Linked DNA regions of Homo sapiens: region 2 is linked to region 1. The links come from fine-mapping of genetic effects on gene expression. Tissue or cell type: whole blood. Region 1 holds a variant in brackets; the other region holds the start of a gene. All regions are shown on one strand. Distances are from middle to middle.

Region 1 (2,918 bases):
GATTATTTATGTTGTTCCATTATAGGTTTTTTGTTGTTTTTGTTTTGTTTTGCAATTAATGTAACACAGTACTGAACATCTTTGCATGTGTATATTTGTTTGCATGTGGAATTATTTATTAAGGCTAAGGTTCTAAAAGAATAATTAGGTCAAAGAATGTTTCTTTTTAAAGTACTGGATCTATATTACCAGTTGTTTTTTTATTTTTTTTCTGAAAGTTTTGACTATTTTGACAAACATTTCTTATTTTCTTATTTCCTTTTTTTTTTTTTTTGAGACAGTCGCACTCTGTTGCCAGGTTGCAGTGCAGTGGCACAATCTCGGCTCACTGCAACTCCACCTCCCGGGTTCAAGCAATTCTCCTGTCTCAGCTTCCTGAGTAGCTGGGACTATAGGCACTTGCCACCACGCCCAGGTAATTTTTGTATTTTTAGTAGAGACGGGGTTTCACCATGTTGGCCAGGATGGTCTCAATCTCTTGACCTCGTGATCCGCCCGCCTCGGCCTTCCAAAGTGCTGGGATTACAGGTGTGAGCCACCGTGCCCGGCCACATTTCTTATTTCTTCCCATATGCGTAATAGTAGTGGATGGGGTTAGGAGTAGGTAGGGATGAGGTACTGATGATGTGATGTAAGCATGAACAAAACCCTTAAAGAAGATCTGACCTAGAGAAGAAAAGAAGACAGACAATTAATAAAGGGCGTTGTGGCAAGAATGGAGGGTAGGCTAAAGCTAACAGCAGTCAGATTACTAAATGGAAACAGTAGTATTCTAAAATCCTAGCCCAGAGGGATCATGCCTGGCTTTGTGTGGTGGTTGGTTTGGAGGGCAGGAAACAGACTAGTCCATGGGTTTAGGCATGTGTGGGTCTTTCCCAAGATCACAGAGCTAGTCCAGGACCTAGTATTTGAGTCTGCTGATCTCATAGTAAATGCACTTTGCACCACACTACAGTGCTTCTCAAGTCAAGGCATATTCATGGACATTAAAGAGTCAAAATACCACTCCGGGCATGGTGCAATGAAGTGATGAAATGCATGACACAGG[T/C]ACGTGCTTCCTGAGGCAATGGCTGTCTACCTAGGCACTCAGAGTCAGATCAGGTGGATTTCAAAACAATTACTGAAAATTAGTTCTTTCTCAGTCCCCATGACTTCCTGCCAGTTGGTTCACTGTCTTCTGCTAACCTTCTCCAAATTATCCCTGTGGGGGTTCTAGTAGGCCACTGTATTCTCAAAACTGATATTTTTCTTGATGTTTGCTTCCCGCTGCCCTCCAACAAGTGTTTTGGATATGCCTTCTCATGCCCAATGAACATTTGGCATTTATTAGTTTTTTTAAATGAGCATTACCTTGCACTAGCACTATTCTAGCTCCTGGAATAGAGCTGTGAGCATAAAGGCAGGAATCTTTTCACAGGGTGTTTACATTTTAGTGAGGAAAGACAGATAAAAATCAGGAAAATTAATAAACACAGTAATTTCAGAGAAGGATATATATTATAAAGATAGTATAGCAGGATGATGTGATAGTGATGGGAGATGGACCATATTTTGGTTGATAGACAAGGAAGGACTTTTTGAGGCTATATCTTTTTTTGATGCTGAGAAAACATTTGCTGAATTAATTTATTACATAAGCCTATTAAATATATCTATAAAATCTGGAAACAGAGGCAAAACGATATAACAGCTGGTTTGTTGATTCTACACAATGATACCGACTAATACAAAATAATGCAATATATAATAAAAATATGCAATATGTAACATGTATCAGTGTGCTGCTTCTCCTTAGCAGTGCATGATTCCATGTATCATACAAAATTGCAATGAATATGGCACATTAAAGCAGAATTTCCATCTATTCCTGCATACAATTAGTATTAGTCTGTGATATTGCCTCCTATGATTTTTTGTTTTTCTTTTCTTTTTTTTAATTTGTATAAATTGAAGGGGTATAAGCAGGGTTTTGTTACATGTATATATTGCACAGTGGTGAAGCCTGACCTTTTGGTGCAAACATTACCTGAATAGTGTACATTGTACCCATTAAGTAATTTCTCATCCCTTACCTTGCTTCTGCCCAGGCCATACCTTTGAGCTGACTGGAACTGCAAGAAAGAACTAACCTTAGGAAGACTGGGATAGAATGTTCTGTACAGTGGAAACAACAAGTAGAAAGGTTCTGAATCAGGAAAAAGGTTGGTGTGTTTAAGAAATAGCAAGAATGGCCAGGCACGGTGGCTCACGCCTATACTCCCAGCACTTTGGGAAGCTGAGGCAGGTGGATCACCTGAGATCAGGAGTTTGAGATCAGCCTGGCAAACATCGCAAAACCCCATCTCTACTAAAAATACAAAAATTAGCTGGGTGTGGTGGCGCATGCCTGTAATCCTAGCTACTTGGGAGGATGAGACAGGAGAATCGCTTGAACCTGGGAGGTGGAGGTTACAGTGAGCCGAGATCATGCCACTGCACTCTAGCCTGGGCGACAGAGCATGACTCTGTCTCAAAAAAAAAAAAAAAAAAAAAAAGAGACCGGGCGCAGTGGCTCATGCCTGTAATGGCAGCACTTTGGGAGGCTGAGTTGGGTGGATCACGAGGAGTTCAAGACCAGCCTGGCCAAGATGGTGAAAACTGTCTCCACTAAAAATACAAAAATTATCTGGCCGTGGTGGCGGGCTCCTGTCATCCCAGCTACTTGGGAGGTTGAGGCAGGAGAATCTCTTGAACCCGGGTGGCAGAGGTTGCAGTGAGCCAAGATCACACCAATGCACTCCAGCCTGTGTGACAGAGCAAGACTCTGACTCCCAAAAAAAAGAATGAAAGAAATAGCAAGAAGGCCTCTGTGGCTGGAAGCTGGTAAGGGACAAAAGATAACCTTAGAAGCACAGGGGCCAGGCCGGGCACGGTGGCTC
Region 2 (2,918 bases), 370 kb before region 1:
TCGAGCCAGGAGCGCCCGCGCGGGGCCCTCCGAGCTCCTGCGCCCACCCAGGCCTTTGGCACCGGCAGGGGGCGCTGTGCCTCCACCGCGCCGCGTTGGGCGCAGGCAGGCGAGGAGGGGCGGAGTCGCCGGGCCACCCCGCCCTGCCCAGCCGGGCCCTGCCCGCAGGCCGAGGCGCCCCCGAGCCCGGATCGCGCAGCCCAACAGTCCGCAAACAAAGCTCAGGTGGTTTCCTGGCCTGCCGGTCGGGCTGAAACCAACAAGGCAGGGGGAAACCCATTATTTCTGAGGTCTCGCCTCTGCTTCCACGCCCACCTTCCCCTGCGATTCTGCGAAGCCTGGGCGCGCCTCGGCGGCTCATTTTGCATTTTTAACGGGTTTAAAGCCTCTTGGCAGACCTCGCTTTCCCCAGTAGGTTAGAGCAGGCGAAGCGACACGATCTCTTCTCTAGGAAAAGAGGCGTGGTGGGTGCCCAGTGTTTGCGAAGCAGCCACCCATGGCCGACCTCTCGGGTCCACCCAATCGTGGCTATCTGCCTGGGTCCGGGCAGCGCCGGGCGGCCCCTCGCGGGTGGTCGAGGCGCCACGCACAAGAACAATCCCGACCGAAAGGCACGAACCGCCTCTTTTTGACCATCTGGAAAGGTTCTTAAAGGACCCACCGAGTGTTCCCACCCCACAGATACCATTTAAAAATCAAATGGATGTGTAATTCCACAGACAGCTACGAATAAAGATTTAGGACAGTGGGAAAGCCTCATCAAAAGGTACCGAAGCCCTCTGTCTGGCCCCAGCCAGCCACCTTTCCAAGAACCCAGGGCACGCCGCCGCGGCATACAATAAGACAGCCTTTCCCTCCTCGCCTTTCTCCACCACCATCCCCATTGCGCCCCCCTTTCCCGACTCCCCCCCCCGCCACACACAATCACACCACCAGTTCAGAAATCTCGAAGACAATCCAGCTTCGACAACAAACCCGAGAGACACCCAAACACCATTGTGCCCCCAAACACAAATGAAACCTGGCTGGGGGCGGGGGAAGGAGGGCACCTAGCTAGTCACGTTCTGCCAATCTCCAAACCACGCCATTTTAGACGATTTATCACTCCTTTCCTCCCGTCTACTCAAGAATTCTCCAGGATTCTAAGGAACCACTCCTTTGGTGTGGGGGGACCCCGGCTATGAAAAATCCACAATTTAGGCTATCCATTTCCATTCAACTTTCAGACTAGAATCCAGCCACACTCCTCTCCACGAATGAGCCTTGGGAGCCACCAGGAGGGAAGGAGAGAAAGACACGAAATAAATGACCACAACCACAGGTAGAATTTACCTGTCCGTTCGCTTTGGAAGGCGACGAGGCCACAGCCGCCTCCCCAGGCCTCTCCGCGGCGGCTTCTCCCTTCGCTGCGGTCTTGGAGAACTGGGCACCCATGCTGGCTTCTTCAACAAAGAAACTCAACAGATCCAAGAGGGGAAACAAAGAGCCTCGGGTTGGTGTAACGACGGGGCGAGCAGCAGCAGCAGCGGCGGCGGCAACAGCGGCAGCGGCACACACACCGGAGGGAGGGGGGTGGGGGTGGTGGAGAGGACAGAACAGAACCGATTAAATACACTCCGGATAAAAAAATTTTAGTCGAAGAGATCAAAAAGCAGCAGCACAGGAGGGAGGGAAAAAGGGTGGAAAAGTCGAGCACAAAAAAAGGAGCCCAAGTGTAGTTCGAAAAAAAAAGAAGTAATAAAAAAATCCCAGATTTGTAGCCGCACTGTAGACAAGAGGAAAATGGAGAAATCTCCCTGGTTGCTAATAAGATGCGGGGTCCAACGCCCAAGTGCACAGATGAATGGGCTCGCGGGCGCTGACGCGGCCCCCGCGCGCGTCGGCCAATCCGCGCGCCGCACACAAAGCAGGGGGCGGGGTCTGCGCGCCTGGCGAACAATGGAGCCGCGCTTTGCAAACGGTTTGAAAATCAGCCTCAGACCGAGAATTAATGTCCTCCAAATAAATAAATCAATTAAAAAATACATGGCACTCGTCTCTCTCTGCTTGAAAATAATAATGCATTTCTTGATTGGCTTGCTTTGTTTGGAATTAATTAACACGGGAGGGGGGTACTTGTGCATCGGGGCGGAGAAAGCGTTAACTTGACTCGCATTGACTCTCGTCGGTCTATATCCGTGTGTCTCTCTCTCTCCACTCGCTCCCCTCCCCCATCTTTCCGTGTGTTTATGTGTATGTGTGTGTATGCGAGTGTTAAAGACAATGGTTGCGATTTGTGTGTTTGCAGCATGTTTTCTTTCTTTTTTCCATATTGGTTTTACAGATAATGCTCAGGGTTTGTTTTTTGAACTGCTGCAATGGTTAAATCGTCCCAAATTGAAAGGTATTTAAACCACGAAGATCGAATTTCATCAAGCGAGATCGCAAGTTAGAATTAGGTCTGTAGGCCAGATGTGGAAAATGCAAAAGCGGCAAACAGCGAAGCCACACTCCCTTCCCTCTCCCACATTGGCATGAAATAAAATATTTTGAGATTGGCCTTGGGCGCTCAACAAATTCCCCCTTCTCTGGCTATTCCCAATTAGTGATTTTTTTCCCCCACAATTCAAAGTGAGAGCCATTTACAGAAGATCGAAACTCTTCGCGTTTTATCACTGTTTTAAATGACATAATTTTCCTCTATGGTGAAATGAGACACAGCCTCGAGTAGACGAATCCATATTTACAGTTGGGATGTTATTCGCGTCAATATGGATCGTTTTCAGCCTACTGCCAGAATCGAATGGACTCTTTTTGAACGTGTGTGTGAGTGCGCACGCAGGCGAATGTGCTCCTGAAAGGAAGGGAGGCAGCAGCAACGATGACATTCTAAACCGGATTGCAGTTCTAAGGAGAAATGTTCTGTATGTTGAGAGATA

The links. PIP is the estimated chance that this variant, and not a neighbour inherited with it, causes the effect.
Region 2: MARCKS starts here. The variant in region 1 is fine-mapped to the expression of MARCKS in whole blood (TOPMed, PIP above 0.99).

What each region holds. Positions count from the first base shown.
Region 1 is chr6:113,484,470-113,487,387 of GRCh38, reverse strand. No RefSeq gene overlaps it. Among named protein-coding and RNA genes, the nearest start is that of LINC02518, 52 kb to the right of the region's middle. The variant T/C (reference allele first, on the strand shown) is at 1,049.
Region 2 is chr6:113,856,262-113,859,179 of GRCh38, reverse strand. MARCKS (myristoylated alanine rich protein kinase C substrate) reads right to left here and starts at 1,835. Exons shown (of 2, transcript NM_002356.7): 1 at 1,333-1,835. The coding sequence starts at 1,434. RefSeq lists a silencer at 1-288 and enhancers at 1,754-1,803, 1,591-2,134, 2,135-2,680.